Linked DNA regions of Homo sapiens: region 1 is linked to region 2. The links come from fine-mapping of genetic effects on gene expression. A gene starts in region 2. The other region holds a variant in brackets. All regions are shown on one strand. Distances are between the middles of the regions.

Region 1 (8,320 bases), 93 kb before region 2:
TCTTTCCTAAGTGCCTGGCAGTGAAGACCTCTTCCCATTAGAGAAGCTGGCTGGGTTGCCCCCTCCTTCTGGAGGAGCACTGACTCAGACCATCACAGGGACACACAAATACCAAACACACTGAGAACATTGTTGGCAATGAAATTACAGACGTTATAAATGCCAGCCTTTCCCTTCCAGGTTTCCTTTCCTGTTCCCTGGTGGGAGAAGGACCACACCCCATGCAGTGCTGGGAGACATCCCCCGCAGGCCTTGGGGTGCTGGAACCCTGGGACGACAGTCATATTGTCCAGGTTATTTCTCCCAACTGCAGATGGAGACAGCCTTCCTGAGGGGCCAGGGGGAACAGCCCTTGTAAAAACTGAAGCCAAGTCACAGAGGCCCAGGGATCCTCAGGAACAGCTCCCTGCTGTACAAATGGGAGTCTGGCCCTGGTGCAGAAGTCCCTTCTGCTGCCCTGCCCATAGGCTTTCGGGGGACTCTCCTGCCAGTGACGTAACTGTTAATACCCAGCCTGGGGCTTTTGCTGATTCCTCCAGGGCCTGGCTAAAGGCTGACAGCCTTATCTCCTAGGGAAAAAACTGGGTGGCACAGAAAATGGGCTTTGGGAGAGGTAGGTTTGGAGGAGAGCAAGCAAGAGGAGAGAGCCTGACTCAGGAGAAGCAAGCACCAGAGCCCTCCAAGGCTGAGGGTGAAAATAGATGGAGAGTGGAAATGGGGCTCAGCGCGCCAGGAGGGAGCCCTGAGTAGGCGGTGGGTGGTGGGCTGTGCTCCCTGAGAGGACGGAGGGGTGGATGGGGGAATGGAGGCTGCAGCCAAGGTCTTTTACAGTGACTTGCTCCTAAGCCCAGACCAAGCTGGACATTGTAGCCAAGGTGTATTCTCTGCAGCCAGCTAGGGCTTTGCTCCAGGCTCCTCAGGCCCAGGGGTCAGAAGTTCTGGGTAACTCCAGATCAGCAGCCCCACGGCAAAGTGGGGCTGAGGGCAGAAATGGTTGCGTCCAGGAGAGGCTAGTGGTGTGCTGGCCTGCCAGCTGCAGTTCATATGTATGTTGAAGCAGCGTTTATTTTTACCTGGGTAGGTTCAGCTTCTGATCACAGACATGGTGGGGGTTTTCCATTGGTTTCCATGGGAACATTAGGCAGAGCATCTGCTACCCAATCAAGCAAAGCTGGTCTGGTAAGACTCTTTTCAGAATTATTTTGCTGTTTTTACCCAGGAAGTATGTCCTGCCTGAATTTGTACCACTGCCTTCTTGTGTGGTAGAGCAGGGGAGGGCAGCTCCGAGGGGACAGGCCTGGCTCACAGGGAAGGAGAGAGGGCTGGCTAAAGGCAAGCACGGCGGCAGGGCAATACCTATTTGGAGAAGCAATTTGCTTTCCATTTCTAAGCCCCAAGTAGAATCCCATAATGAGGCCACAGGAGCCTGGGCTCCACCTGACCTGTGCTGATTCCTGGTTTTGGTCCAAGGCCTGCCCTTGCAGTAGGGCCACCTGTTGGCCCCCACCAGAGCAGTCAGGAGTTCCTGGGGCACCACAGGGCATGGAGGCCGACGAGCAAGCTACCAGGTGCAGGACAGGGCTAGACTTGAGCATGTTCAGTTTCACTTTTACAGAAAGGAGGCCCGGACTTTCCCCACGAGGCGGGGGAGGGTGTGCTGAAGGGCTAGGCCTGGAGGCAGAAAGGAAGGCGCTGGTGCATGTGGACATGTAAGAAGTGGTTTTATTCCAGGTGTGTGTTTCATAAAGACGAGGTCCTCAAGGACAGCTAGTGGCACATGCTTTGGTCAAGAAGAGGAAAAGCAAAAACAGAACAGGGCTGCGTTGCCACAAAGGACCGGCTGATAAGTGCAGAGCCTGATCTGACCACAGCAAAGGACAGAGAGACCCTCTTGAAGGCCCTCTGGTCAGCAGTCCTCTTACATTCAACAGGCGCAGCCCCGGCTCCCCAGCCCCAAAGGTCCATGCCCGAGTGTGGCCCAGGCCTTCTAGTCCATCCTCTGGGGAGAGGCCTTTGCCCTGGGCCCAGTTCTGTCCTAAGCTGTGGCAGGAGGCTTCCCAGATGAACAGGGGATCTGAGGCTGCACCTGGCTGCGGAAGAAACATCACGACAGAGGACAGGCAAAGCATGGCCCTGGGAGCGAAGGGGCCTGCGCTGGCAAGTCCAGAGGGGTGCACTTGGGCACGGGAGTGCTGCCGAGAGGACGCTGGTGAGAGTCAGGAGGCGAAACTGCTGGAGAGCCCTCCAGAGCAGGTGCTGCGGACCACAGACACTTGGCTGCTGACCCCAAGGGCCGTGTGGAGGGAGCAGGCGATGGCAGTTTGAGCACGCCAGGGAGGAAGATTAGGGGGTGGCAGCTTGGGCAGACAGTGGCTTCAATCCAGAGCAGAGGTTCAGGCCCTTTGGGGATCAGGGACCTCTTTTAGAAGCCATGGACTTTTTCCCCAGGAAAATGCATGTATGCACACACATGCAGTATTTTAGGGACAATTTCAAGAGATTCCTAGACCCTCTAGAATCCATGAACTCTATGGGTATGTGGATCCTTGGCCTATGAAAGACAGGGGGCTCCTGTGGTAGGTATATCTGCCCCAGGCTGGTCTGCTTTGTAGGGGAGACCCCCAGGGTCCTGGTACCAACAGTCATTTGCCCAAGAGCCAGTGGGGTGAGGAAGCAGGGTGTGGGGATAGCAGGAGCAGTTCCAAGACAAGGCCGTGGGGTAGATGTGTGGATGTGTTCTCAGCGGCTGTGAAAAGGAACTGGGAGTTCTCTTCACAAACAGGAGCCACAGCCAGCCTCCCAGCACAGTGCAATAGCTGACCCTTCAAGAAAATCCCTCCTGTAGTAGGGAGGGGAATAAGGGTGAGGTTGAGCCCTAATGACTTAGGGGCTCCTGTAGCGGGGAGGGGAATAAGGGTGAGGTTGAACCCTAATGACTTAGGGGCTGTTCTTGGTCCAGAAGGGAAGTTCCCTTCTTTCCAACCACCCATGATGCTGTATTGACAGAGGCAAAAACCTTTGAGAAAGCAGGAGTCAAAAATGACAAATGAGGCTGGGACTACTCAGGGATGTGTGTGGCTACCCGTCCTTTCAGTGGGTCCTGGCGGCAGGGACAGGGCACTAGCTGTTCATTAATGCCCGAGAGAGAGGTCTCAGCCTGACACATGGCCAAATAGAAGTGGAGTCTGTTTAATAAACTACGCCCGAATCTTCCCCTAAAGATCCCTCTGCAGCCTCTTGCTAAGAATGTGGGCACCCACAGGCACAGGACCGGAAGAGGCAGCGTCGGGCTCAGACCCTGGGGCTGGTAAAGTGTGGAAGGGACTGTGTCCTGGGTAAGAGACCTTGTTCTTTTGGTGCTTTGCTGCTCTTCTATCCATGTTCATTTGCAAATTACCCATCCTTTGCTGCCAAGACACCATCCGTCCCCACCCAACCCAGTGCCACCCTGGGCTTGGCATCTCTGACAGGTCACCGGGCTTCTCACCTCCTTCCTGTTCTTCAGCTACCCCTGCAGGCTGCCCCTCTCCCCTTCCCTCTTCCCAGCCTTCAGCCTCTCCATCCATGCTGCCCAATTTCCCCTGGCCCTGCCTGCCTGCACAGCTGGGCCTCATGACCCAAAAGACCCCTGTGTGGGCTTCTGTCCTTGCTTTCTCCGGGCAACAAGGGAGAGACCACACACTATTGTCCCAGCCCCAAGAAGCGCCAAGGGAGAGGACAAAGGGCCAGGGGCACCTACTCAGTCTCTACCCAGCAACAGTCCAGCACCCTGACCATCTCCTCTCC[C/T]GGGGCAAGGCCAGGACAGCACTGAGGGCATCGGGGCGTGCCCGCCTGCGCCCTCCTAGAACAAGCTTTGGAGAACGTGTGTCATGGTGGGTATTTGCTGATGGTCCTGGCAGAAATGTGAGGAGATGGGAACAGCCCACTTTGCACTCCCCCACCCTAACCCCCTTCCGGTCCCGAAGTCTCATGCAAAAGGTACAGGAGGCCCCAGGGCTACCGTCATGTGTGTGGCAACAGCTGCCACTGCTGGGCCTGGGCGTCAGCCTGACACTTGCTGGTCACCAGCTGGGCAGGCTTTGTCTCCAGGCAGAGGCCACTGACTGAATGCTGGATGAAAGATCCTTTTCTCCTCCATTTCTAGGAGGAACAGAGATGGGTTAGAAGAGGAAGGAGAAAACAATGATTTAAAAAAATAATGTTGTACTTTCATTCCACATGTATGCACACAGCCCTTGTATATAACTAGGACACATCCCCCTCCTCCTTTCTTTTTAGGCATGACCTTGTTCTTACAGTGGTGCTACCACAGCTCACTGCAGCCTCGAACTCCTGAGTTCAAGCAATCCTCTTGCCTCAGCCTCTGAGTAGCTAGGACTACACCTGCATGCCACCACGCCCAGCTAATTTTTAAATTTTTTGCAGAGACTGGGTCTTGCTATGTTGCCCAGGCTGGTCTAGCTAGAACGTCTCACCTCAAGTGATCCACCTGTCTTGGCCTTCCAAAGCACTGGGATTACAGGCATGAGCTACCATGCCCAGTCATGCCCCTCATTTAAATCAGGCTGTGTGTTCCTATGTAAGAGGCTGCCCCCATCCTGCCTCTAACACCAGCTTTAAGCCCTGCCCTTCCCAGCAGGGCTCTTGCTTTTCTGTAGTTTGCAGAAGTTCCTGTCCAGATCAGAGGAGGAGGCAAAGCAGAAGTCCCCTGTGTTTATTTACAATTTAGCTTGGTTGCCACGTGCAAATCTGCATTTCCAGCTTCTATGTAGTTATTGGACCCAGTTTCTTACATGGCATCAGTTGCTGGGGCTGAGGATTTGCCCTCTGCCTTAGATGGGGCTCTTGTTCTGCAGGTCACCATAGTTCCTGCCTGGTCCCGACTTTTCTCCTATTGGGGTTTTCCCACCAGCTCCCTGTAGGCACTTGAGCTTGTCAGTCCTGGCCTAGGTAAATCTTTTATTTCTGTAAACAAGATTTATTCTTCCTAAGCTTCTGACCTGTGAGGCCAGTAATCTACACCCCCTAGTGGGAAGCTGCCTTCTTTGTAGGGATGAAGTGTGGGGCCAGCAGGGTGGTGGGAGACTGGAGGTCTCGCATCACAGAGTCATGCAGGGGCTCCTGGTCAGTGCCTTCACCTCCTGGTGCCTCCCCGACCCCGGGTTTGACAAGGGGGAGAAGAGTTGCTCCTGTAGAACATTACGGAAGTGCCTGGGTGGAGGATGGAGTGTTGCTTGGAACATTTATGAGAAGGGATGAGAGGCAGAGACCCAGGTTTCAAGGCTCAGGGAAGAATAATAGTAAGATAGGTCTAGTTTGGGTTTCTCTCCTATTTGCCTCCCATTGCAACCACCTCCCCTCTTCCATCTTCTCTCATTCACCGTGTCTTCGATTAGAGGCAGGAGTGCTTGTGACCATGTGGAGGAAGCCCAGAGGGCTCTGAGGGCAGTTGGTGGACAGGGAGCAGCTGAGGGGAGAGAGATGAGCCCACCCAGCTGCAGGGATAGGGCTAGGGCTGCGGGGGGATGTGCACACAGGGTGGAAGGCAGGGGCGGAGCCTGGGCTCCCAGTGGGAATGCAAGGACGTGATGGGTAGGGCTGAGACCCAGCCTCTCTGGGCCCACATGGCCCCCGCAGAGAGCCTAAAGGTCAAGGGCCTTTGGATCCCCCCTCCTGTTTCTTCATGCTCTTCTAGTCCTTGACATTTACCTCATGTAGGCCAAACCTCCAGCAATGCCCAGCTGGAGAGAGTATGGCCATCCTCACCCCAGGGAGTCGTGGTGCTTGGAGCTACCTCAGCATCTAGCCTTCTGTAATATAGTGTCTTACTCCCTTCTTTCTCTTCCACTAAAGTGCAAATTCCCTGGGGGTCAAGGACCATGTCCGTTCATCCTTGTGGCCAACATGATCTGTACATTCTCTGGCACAAGGTAGGCACCCAGTGACATTTTGTTTGTTTGAGACTGAGTCTCGCTCTGTCACCCAGGCAGGAGTGCAGTGACACGATCTCGGCTCACTGCTACCTCTGCCTCCCGGGTTCAAGCGATTCTCCTGTCTCAGCCTCCTGAGTAGCTGGGATTACAGACGCGCGCCACCACGCCCGGCTAATTTTTGTGTTTTTAGTAGAGACGGGGTTTCACCATTTTGGTCAGGCTGGTCTCGAACTCCTGACCTCATGATCCACCCATCTCAGCCTCCCAAAGTGCTGGGATTACAGGCATGAGCCACTGCACCCAGCCGTCATTTTGTTTTAAGATGAACGAATGACTGAATCACCCAATCATTAGGAAGTGCTCCCCAAACAGCGGGATTCTCACTTCTTATCAGTGCTATTAGGCACAATCTCAGGGCTTCTTGACTCTCCAGGCCACTCAATTCTGGGCTTGTCTGAGAAACAATGTCACATCACCCACTGTCCCATCTCCACATCTTGGTTCTTGCGGATTCCTTGTGAGGTAAGCAGGGGAGGGAGCCCCTTATTTTATAAGTGAGGAGACTGAGTGAAGGGAGGGGGAGGGAAGACTGAGCTGGGGCCTGCTGACTCCATCACACCAGGTCTGAGGCACAGGAGCCTCTCGGATACAGGAAACCCAGCTAGCCTTGGAAATAGGACCAGCAGGGGACCAAGAAGGACGGCCCGGATTCCAGAAGGCATTGGCAGTGGGATAGCTGGCTCATCCTGTCCTCCTGGGAGAAGAGGGGCACAGGCACCCAGAATGCCATCGGGAGCCTGGCAGGACTTGCAGGGGCAGAATGAATGGGGCCAAGGAGATACCTACACACCCCGTAGGCTGGGTCAGCACAAAGGGGGAAATGTGTGATTCAGCCCCAGAGGGGCAATTGAGTGGAGGCTTTGCTCGGAGATAATTCCTCAGTGGGAGGGGGTGGGCGTGGGCTCAAGGATTTGCCCTCAGAGAGGTGGGTGCTCTAGGTGCAGGAGACACTGCACCAGCCCCACTGCAGGGCAGGGCCGAGGGTGGGCTGCATCCCCCCACCATCCAAAAGCGCTTAAAGTGTCCCACAGGTCCAGCAAGTGGGCTGGGCACACAGATCCCTCAGACACACACAGGCCGGAGGGAGAGGCTGTGGCTGCTTTCCAGAATGGCACAGCAAACTGCTGTTCATCCTTTAAAAAACGTGCTGACCCAAGCAAAGAAAAAGGGGTAGGAGGAAAACCATGCAGGCCAAATCAGAGACCCAGGCACCCTCCTCACTGCTTGCACCGACTGAGGCAGGCTAGCCAGTGGCAGGCACAGGGAGGGCTTCTGAGGAGGGTGAGCAGGGGAAGTGCTGGAGCAGCCTCTGGGCCTTGGGTCCCATTCCCTGGGTGGTGAGGGAGCCCTCCAAGACAGGAAGGGAGTAGCACAGAAGAGAGCTGGCTGGATTCTGGAAATCCACTGTCACTGGTTGCTGTGTACCCTGAGCAAGTGACTCCACCTCTCTGTGCATCACTTTCTTCCTTGACCCTGACCTGTCTCCCAGGATTAGTGGTGACAGTGTGGGTGAGAGTGTCGGATCAATGGAAAAAGCAGTGCTCACGTGAGGCTGGTCATGCCAGCTTGGACATCACTGTGTCTGGAGCTCAGTTTCCCTAGTCTGCCAACAGTCAAGAAATACTTATTGAACATCTACTATGTGCTGGGTTAAGACTGTGGGCCTAGAAGTCACTGACCTGGGTTTGAATCCCAGCTCCACCCCTTCTCAGCTGTGTGATCTGACATATATTCTTTAGATTCAGCGAGCCTCAGCTTACTCACTTATAAAATGGAGGTAGTACTAGAACCCACGTCACTGGGTGGCTGGGAGGATTAGATGAGATGATCTATTTCAAACTTCTAGCACAGACTGTCAGTAAAAGCTAACACTTATTTGAACTGTGGTGGTTGTCAGGAGCTAGGGATACAGTGTTAACAAGACAAGTGGTCCCTGCCTTCATGGAGCTCACAGCCTGGCAGGATGGCATTAAACAAATAATTACCCAAAGAAGTATTTCCTCATGGGCAGAATAATTGGCTTGACCTAGATGTAGACTTTGCTCCCCCTCCCCACAGATCCTCGCTCTGAAGGGCTTATTTGAGTCAATCAGGGGCTCTCCTGCCAAGGTCTGCCACCCTGAGGCATGGCCCCTCGGGCTGCTGGGCCTCTGGGCCAGAGGCAAGGAGACTCACCTGCTTGCCTTCTCTAGGGTTGCACATCTGCAGTATGACTGGGGATCCAGGGGAGGACATTAAGGTGGAGGTGGCAGCCAGGCACTTCCCCTGCTGCTGGATGAGGTGGTCACTGAACAGCCATGCCTGCAAGGCAGGGAGCAGAAAGGCCA
Region 2 (8,320 bases):
CAGGTCCAGGCGCTTCTGCAGACCCTCCCTTTCCCAGCTCAGCTCTCTGATTCCCCAAGGGAGCAATGATGACGCCTGTCTGAATTTGCCAGCCTCTGACAGCAGGGCTAGCCACATCATTCTCTAAGAATCTGAAAATCCACATGCAGCATCCTGGCCCAACTAGACAGAGAAATGTTTCTGAATAAGCGGTTACCACAAATTGCAGGGAGAAAGTAAATCCTCAGCTGCACCTGCCCCTTTTAAGTTGAACAAAGCATTCAATGCCTGCAGAAGCTTGAACGTACATCCCCCACCTCCTTACTTAGAGCCACCTCCTTACTTAGAGGTTACAGTTGATAATAAAATATTAAGGAGATATGAATATAATACAATAATATTAGGGGGATGTGAAGCATTGACTGCCCCCAGAAATGGGTGAGAATCCTATTTCACTCCTTTAAGAAGCCTTGCTGTGCACTTTAGGAGGCTGAGGTGAATGGATCACATGAGGTCAGGAGTTTGAGACCAGCCTGGGCAACATGATGAAACCCCATCTCTACTAAAAATACAAAAATTAGCTGAGAGTGGTGGCGCATGCCTGTAATCCCAGCTGCTCGAGAGGCTGAGGCATGAGAATCGCTTGAACCCGGGAGGTGGAGGTTACAGTGAGCCGAGATCATGCCACCTCACTCCAGCCTGGGTGACAGAGTGAGACTCCATCTCAAAAAAAAAAAAAAGAAAAAAAGAAATCTTGCTGTGTGCATCAATGTGGGGATGCAAGGAGCTTCCAGCACAGTTCCCGCATGCATCACTTACATTCAGCTGCAAATCACATGGAAGAAATAACTGGAAGAGAGGAATACAATGAAACAATGCAAGGCAGTTGTCAAAAGTGGTGCCTGACGGGGGGGTCAGTGCTGGTGGAACAGGCATCTAAAGCTTAAGAACAAAGAGGGAGCTGGCTGTGCCCCTAAGTGGCCACAGAAGGCTCTGCCACTCCCAGGGACTTCCATTCTCCCTTTCTTCCTGCACCTTCACTTCCCAGCTCCCAGGTATCTCCCTGATACTCCTTCATACTTTAAACTTAGCTTCCCGCTCTGAGACCTTTTCTTACCTGCAGCAAGTCAAACCCTGTGGGAATAAGCAGGGACAAGAGGATGTTTACTGGTGATTCTCATGACCTCCAATTCCCACCCCTCAAAATGAGTGCTGAATCCTTCCAGCAGGTCCCCTACACCATTCTGGGACTCTTGAGAAATGTGAGCGGCCCTCCCAGTGCATCTTACAGGACTCTGGAAGGAGCAGGAGAGAGGTGCATGGGCCAGGTCAGGGTTCAGGTTCCGGGTTCCAAAGCAGAGGCTCTGAGCAGCAGTCTCCTGTGCTCTCTTCCCTCCTCTCCTCCCTGCCCAGCCTCTTTCTCCGCCCCTTCCAACTCAGACCCTCTTCTCATCGCCTCACCAGAAAGAGGGACAGAGCATCTGGCCAGCCTGCCTTGCCTGAGACTAGGGCTCTTCCTGCCACTGAGTATGAATGTGGCAGCCTGGGCTCCTGGAGAGGAAGCTCCCTGGGGTCTGGAGGCCACTGCTGGTTTGGACAGTTCCAGCTCCAACCTGTCCCTCTGCTCAGATCACAACACTCTGGGGCCTCAGCACAGGAGGCTTTTCCTTATCAGTTTTCTGTCCAAAGGGCGACAAGTGCTTTGGAAACAGTGTCCTGGGAGAACAGCCCAGAAGGGAACAGTGCACCTAATCAGGCTTGCCCCCAGAGAGTTCACCCAGACTGGTATCTAGGACAAAACCCACAACCTCACCCCCCCGCCCCAGGTCTCCTCAGGCAAAGCCCTGAAATAATGTTTCCTTTGCAGGGGACTCGGAATCTGGGGCAGGATGGGAATATGAGGGGACACTCTCCAATGAACTTCCCGATATTCCTGGGGTTCAGATCCGCGTCTGGATGCGTTTCTCGGATTCGGCTCCACACAAGCCTCAGCCCTCCGGACCTTGCACCTCCCCCGCGGATCTCCTCACCCCTCCACCCCCAGGCCCAGATCTTTCCTTGTCGGAATCGCCACGCTTCCTCACTCCTTTACCCCCGCCCCACTCGGCTCTCCTCTTCCTGGTCCTCATCCGGCCAGGCTGCCCCGCCCTGGTAGTTCCCGAGGGTCGTCCGAGGCTCTCGTCCACCAACCGCCCCCGTCTGGAAGAATGCGCCCGCTCGAGCGCACTCTCGGCGGGTGCCAAAGCCTCCCGCCTCAACAGGTGCCCCTGCCTGGCCACGCACAGCTCTGTCACCTGGGGCTCGGACGGAGACGGCGACAGGATCGCCCCCTGCAGGGCGGCTGCGGCTCCGCACGCCCCCGCCCGGGTCCCCAGAGCGCCAAGGGCCCCCGCAGCCCCGCCGCCGCCCCCGCTGTGCCACACTGCCTTTGTTTCCCTGCCCGCTTAGATGTCGCGAGGCTGACTTCATGCAAGGGTATCGCCAAGTTCGGGCGCTGACACTGCCCACCTACCCGTGGTGGCGGACCCTAAGGTTGGGAGTGAGAGACGCGTACAGTGCGAGACCTCTCCTCAACCCAGAGAACTCCGGGGAAGCTGGGTGTCCGCGCCGAAGAAGCGGGTTCAAGTTGACCCGGCTCAGAAGGGGGTTCGAAGCCAGGCGCAGCGCCTAGAGAGCCTTCCCCTACCCACGCCCCCACCCGATGTCCTCTGCCCCCAGAAGGCTGGAGAGGGGCTGCGCACTGCCACCTACGCGCTCGGCTGCGAGTGGTTCCCACCGCCCGCTCGCCGCGCGCTGGGCCCGGCAGCCTTCCGGGGCACACGAGGCTCCCGCAGCCCCCAGACTCCCGGCCCCGGCAGCGCAGAGCCGGGAGAGCCGCCACGTTCCCAGCCGCGCGCGCACGCCGGGCCCACCAAACTTGCAGCACTTTCTCCCAGCCCCCACCCTCTGTCACCCTCCCTTAGTCGGTGCGCCCCAGCCCCGCCGCCCGGCAGAGGTTGCCATAACAACGGGCAGGAATGCTCCAACATATACAAAGCCGGCCCGGCGCAGCGGGCACTCAGCCCTGGCCGGGCCCCGCGCCCTCGGCCGCCGCGCAGGGTCTGGACGCGCGCCGCGGCTCCCTAGCCGGCCGGCCGACGCTCGGGGCGTACTCACAATGAGCGGGATGGTGCGGTCCTCGCGGAGCTGCTCCGACCTCCTGCCTGCCCTCTGCGCGCCCCGGCCGCCGGAGGATGCTGCGTGGGCTCGGTTGTCCTGCCATAAGTAGTAGAAAGTGCCCAGGATCCAGGCTACGGTCAGGATGGCGATGGCATTGGCGCGGATCTTCCTCATGGTGGGCAGACGGGCGCCCCAGGTGGGGGACTGGGCCGGCGTGCTCTCGGGGCCGGGGCGGGGGCGCTCGCAGCCCCAGCTGTTTGTTTTCGCTCGCGCCTAGCTGCTCAGTCCTGCAGAGCAGAAAAAGGAGAGAGGTGGGGGGGCGGGGGGGTGATAGGGAGAGACAGGATCGCGGAGCGATCCTCACGGTCCTAATGCCCTTCAGCCCCGAGCGCGCGCGTCCCCCGGGCGCCCATTCATTCGTGCGCAGGGCCGGCCCCGCGCTCCAGCCGCCGCCGGCTGACCCACCAGGCCACTGCGCACTGGGAGAGAAGCGCGCCGAGTGGGAAGCGGCGCGGGCCTTCCTCCCGCGCCCGGGAACCCGGCGAGACAGACGCCCGCGGCGGAATGGCGACTGGCCAAAGCCAGCCTCGGCTCCCACCGCTAGGTGACCGAACGCCCGGCAGCTGCCCCCGCGCGGCCCTGGTCGGTCCTGCCGACCCACACCCACCCCCGGACCGAGCGGCCTTGAGTCACCGACTGGAGACGCGCGACCCCCGACCTGGGCCCGCGCCGCGAGCTGCAGTTCCGGGCTGCGCTCTGGCGCGGGATTCAAGGTGTGTTCGGCGAGTCCTTGTGTAGGGGCGGCTGGGCGGGGGAGAGTCCTGAGTTTGTACTGGAATCTGCAGCTGAGATTAGCCAGACCGGGCCCGCCCAGAGGAGGGATTGGAAGCTGGTGCACTTGACATTCGAAGAGCGCGAAGGGGAAACGACGCTGCCTCACACCCAGTGCTAGGAGAGTGCGGGTACGGCCCTTCCACATTTTTCGCTGGCCTGGGGCTCCCAGATTTCACGATGCTTCCCTCTATCCCGCCTCATTGACCCCTGGACAACCCTGAAATATCATCGTCAGCATTATTTCATCGGAAAGAAGGGCAGCAAGAGAGGCCGGATGATTCTCCCAAGGCCACACAGCTAATTAGTGGGCAGAGCCCAGTCTAGAAGCCATCTCACCATCTGACACCTTTCGACAAAGTGCAAAACGCGGTGGTGAGAGACGAGGACACAGACATTAAGATTCCGCTCCAGCCCTAGAGGCACTGAGAATCAGAACGTGAACTACTCTTCACTCCAGGCAGAAAGCAAGAGGCTTGGATGAGTTTTAGGAAACCAGCACAGTGTCGGGCACAGAGCGCTCAATGAATAGATGTGTAACAACAAAGTAGGGATCCAACAGAGGAAGAAATAATTTATTGTAAGGTGGCCTTTGGGAAAGCTCTCAGAAAGGTGGATGAATCACTTAAGAGGTAAGGAAGGGGGAGGTGAGGACAGGGGAGAGACTGCAGAAATAGGCCTTGCAAAAATCCAGAGGATGGAAGAGCTTGATGTGTTCAAGAGAGAGAGCTGCCAGGCGTTGCAGGGGGCCTAGGATTTGATAGGAGTTGAGGTTGGCCAGGCTGGGTGAGTCTGAACTCAGGAGGTCCTTGAATGCCGGGGCAGAGTTGTTGAGGAGTCTGCTTCCTGCTGGCACTGCTGGACACCATGGCTACTCCGAAGACCCACATAGGGTCCAGCCTCTAAATGAAGCCATCTGGGGAATCAGGCAAACTGAAGTCACAGCATCATGCCCCCCCACAAGCATCCCATGAGCACCACCCTGACAGATAGAAGTAAAATCAGGTGGCTTTTCTCCATTTCTCCAGCACTCGAGACTGAACCGCACATATAATAGATGCTCAATACATTTCTGTTGAGGTGAAGAAACCCTAGTTGGGTTTTTGCTGAGGAAAACCCAGGGTCATTACTGCAATACGATATCCTCACTCAGAAGACTAATTACGATGACACTTAGACAAGTCCAAAAGTGACCCACGCAGGAATGGGACCTAGAAAGAAGAGAATGCACAAAGAGGGCCTCACAAAGGGTCTACACAAGTAGCAGGGAATTTCAGGCATAAGGTGTGGCAGTCACAACAGGGGCAGGAGTCTGGAGACGCCAGATGCTCTCCCAGGTCTCTCTCCCCTGGGGAGTTTAATAAGACTGCGCCAGGGGCCAGGGCTTGTTTGCATAGATGGAGAAAACCACTGCCAAACCTCCATCTGGTTTCCGCAGGAATCATGGGGCAGATCCAGCGGTGCCATTTGTGGGAGGCCAGGAAAGACCTTGCTCCTTGGGAATCAGGCTCCACAGGCCTCTCAGGTCAACCAAGAAAATGTAAGGGAACTACCCTCCTGGTGCCCCCATTTTCACACATCTCTCAGGTGAGCCAGGTGAAAACTTGGGGAGTAGCCCTGTTGTCATAGGCTGCTCCCCTCATCCCAGCCTGGTCTGTGCATCTCTAGTTGCCTTTGGATGTGGGATTCGAAGACATCACATCACCTATCACCTCCTGGTAAAAGGCTCCAAACTCACCCCTCGGCACGGGGATGAAGCTGGACCATGCTGACTGAAACCAGACAGTTGGGGCTTCTGGTGACTCCAAAAGGAAGGCTCCATGGGGGGAAGGAGGGAGGGGTGGGATGGGCTGGAATGTGGCAGGGTTTCTCACATCTCACCACTTACTGCCCAGGGCTCAGTGGTGAGGATGCTATATATCTGCCCCAAATGGTCACTCCTGGTAGTTCTGTCCCTGAGAGAAGGTTTGCTTGGCCCCCACCACCAGAAAGACTGCACAGAAGTGAAGCGTAGCCTCTCTAGATGACTTCACCACAGTTGTTCCTTAGTTGGGCACTTCCCTGGGGGATGATGGGGGTGGGGTGGGGGTAAGACAGCAAGTAATTGCCATGCTCATTTGACTGACAGGAATTCCACATAGACAGAGGTGGAGTAATGTGCCTGAAGCCATAGGCACTCTGGCAGAGCTAAAGACCAGGAATTGCCACCTTGGCTACAGTCTGTGGTCTTCGTTTCAGATTGTAATCCCAAGTGGGTGCAGAACTGGCCCTCCCTGGGATAGGTTTCAATGCTCAGAAATGACAATGAGTGTTGTTTCCTCTCTGGTACTAGGAATGGACTCCAGCAGCATCACAGAATCAAAGCAACACCTAAGGAATTCACTGTTTCTTCACATACTTTGAACTGTGAAAACAAGAGTCATCATAATAGCTGCAGTTTACTCAGTACCTACCAGGTACTGTCACCTATACTGTCTCTAAAGCCCCTACAACCCTGAGCTAAGGATGATCATATCCCCAACTGCAGATGATGACACTGAAGCTCAACGGCTACTCAACTTGCCTGGAATCCTACAGCAAGTAAGTGGTGAAGCTCGGTTTAAGTCCTGTGCCATTTTCAACGCTTGTGTCTGGGTACGAGTACAGGGCTTCTGAGGCCACTGGGAAATCTGCAGTGTGGTCTGAATTTCTGTATGCAGGAGTCTCACTTTCCCTGCCCACAGTTCTCCGTTTTCTCATCCATAAAAGGAGGGATATAAGATGTCCTGGGGTGGGGGGGTCTCACCAACTGTGCCACTTTGAACTTGCATTTCCTCCTTTTCAGGATTTCTCTTAGGCACAGTTCATATTGTTTTAAAGCTGTCAAAGCCAGCACTCAGGGTAAGCTGGGCAAAGTTCCACATGCCCCTGGGGCTCCCAGATGCCCCAGGGAGCTCTCTGCCTCTGGGCCTTTGGTGTGGGGGTTGTGGAGGAGTGGATAACCGAGGGGGAAAGGGTACAGCTCAGTGTAAGGCCCTGGCTCTGGAATTGGACAACCTGAACTTGAATGCTGATCCTGTCACAAATTAAGAGAGTGGTTTGGGCAAATTCTTAACCTCAGTTTCCTCAACTGCAAAATGGGGCACTGACAGCTCTTACCTCACAACTTTGTTGGGAAAGATAGGATGAAATAAAGTCATGTAAAATCCAGTGCCTCATAAGCACCCCCCAGGGGCTCTCTCCTGCAGGCTGTTGCTGGCTGCTGGAGGTGAAAGGGGCCTCCTGAAAGGGACTGCTCACTATTGCTGCCAAGAACAGACCTGATGCCAGCCTCTTTGGCCATGGCTAATGTCCAGCAGTCATAGACTGTCCTGCCCGTGGGTGGGTGGCTGCATCTTCCAGAGCCTCTGCTGAGCAGGCTGGAGGCAAGGCAGGGGAGAGGCACAGAGCAGGGCCCCAGCCTCCCATTTGAGGTGCTGGGCCAGCTCAGAAGCTCTTGCTCTGTCCACAGCAGCAGGGCCCAGAAGGTAGGGAAGGGACCTGATTGGATACCCTTACTGGCCCATGTCTGCTCTAAGCAGGAAAGAAGGCAGGGATGGTGGACAGAATGTATGTTACCAAGCAACAGGCAATGTGCTGATACACGATCTCAGAATACTCATAACGACCCTGTGAGGAAGGCGCAATCATCCCCCTTCCACAGGGGAGGAGACTGATGCCCACGGAGGTGCCAGCATAAAGTGGAGCATGCGCTGCCCACTGCCAGCTGAGCGCACTCAATGCACCAATCGTCTCTAAGGAAAAGATATTTATAAGGTAGTTTCTATAAACCATTATAGATGGAGGAAAGGACTTAGCTCTTTGAAAGGAACTTGGCAGTTTTCTTATTGTCAATCCTCCTCCTCCTACTTGTCTGATAACCCTGGTTTCTTACTTATTAGTTTCTGCCACTGGAGTAAAAATTCCAAGAGGACTGGGGTTCTTGTATATTTTCCTTACCACTGTTTCCCCGGTGCCTATAGTAGTGGCAAATAGTACATGCTTGTTAGTGTGTAGTATTTGTTTTTTTGTTTGTTTGTTTGTCTGAAGCCCTTGGAATGCGATCGCATAGTTATTTGTTGATGGAAGGAAGGGAGAGGAAGAGGGAAGGAGGAGAAAAGGCAGTGTAGCTCTATGAAAAAATGCACTTCTCTCTTAAGCCAAGCACTTGAGAAATGAGTACAGGACTAGAGCACAGACAAAGGGGGTGATTCGTTTAGGGTCAGGGCGGGCCAGTGTAGGGAGTCCCCTGCCAGTGCTTCCTCCCCAAGTCATGGAGCCAGGGCCAAACCTTCCTGCCCCAGGATGAGGGGGGAGAGAAAGTCCTTTGTGG

The links.
Region 1: its variant is fine-mapped to the expression of GALNT16 in cerebellar hemisphere (GTEx, PIP above 0.99). The same link has a PIP of 0.9 or more in cerebellum.

The regions. Positions count from the first base shown.
Region 1 is chr14:69,347,851-69,356,170 of GRCh38, reverse strand. GALNT16 (polypeptide N-acetylgalactosaminyltransferase 16) reads right to left here. Exons shown (of 15, transcript NM_001168368.2): 14 at 8,169-8,294; 15 at 1,705-4,140. The coding sequence ends at 4,003. Among named protein-coding and RNA genes, the nearest start is that of ERH, 46 kb to the left of the region's middle. RefSeq lists enhancers at 1,328-1,827, 1,858-1,957, 6,970-7,470. The variant C/T (reference allele first, on the strand shown) is at 3,787.
Region 2 is chr14:69,255,283-69,263,602 of GRCh38, reverse strand. It overlaps GALNT16 (polypeptide N-acetylgalactosaminyltransferase 16), which reads right to left and starts at 3,445. Exons shown (of 15, transcript NM_001168368.2): 1 at 3,136-3,445. The coding sequence starts at 3,312. It overlaps GALNT16-AS1 (GALNT16 and EXD2 antisense RNA 1), which reads left to right and starts at 3,076. Exons shown (of 4, transcript NR_184249.1): 1 at 3,076-3,313; 2 at 6,302-6,549. RefSeq lists a silencer at 2,340-2,399.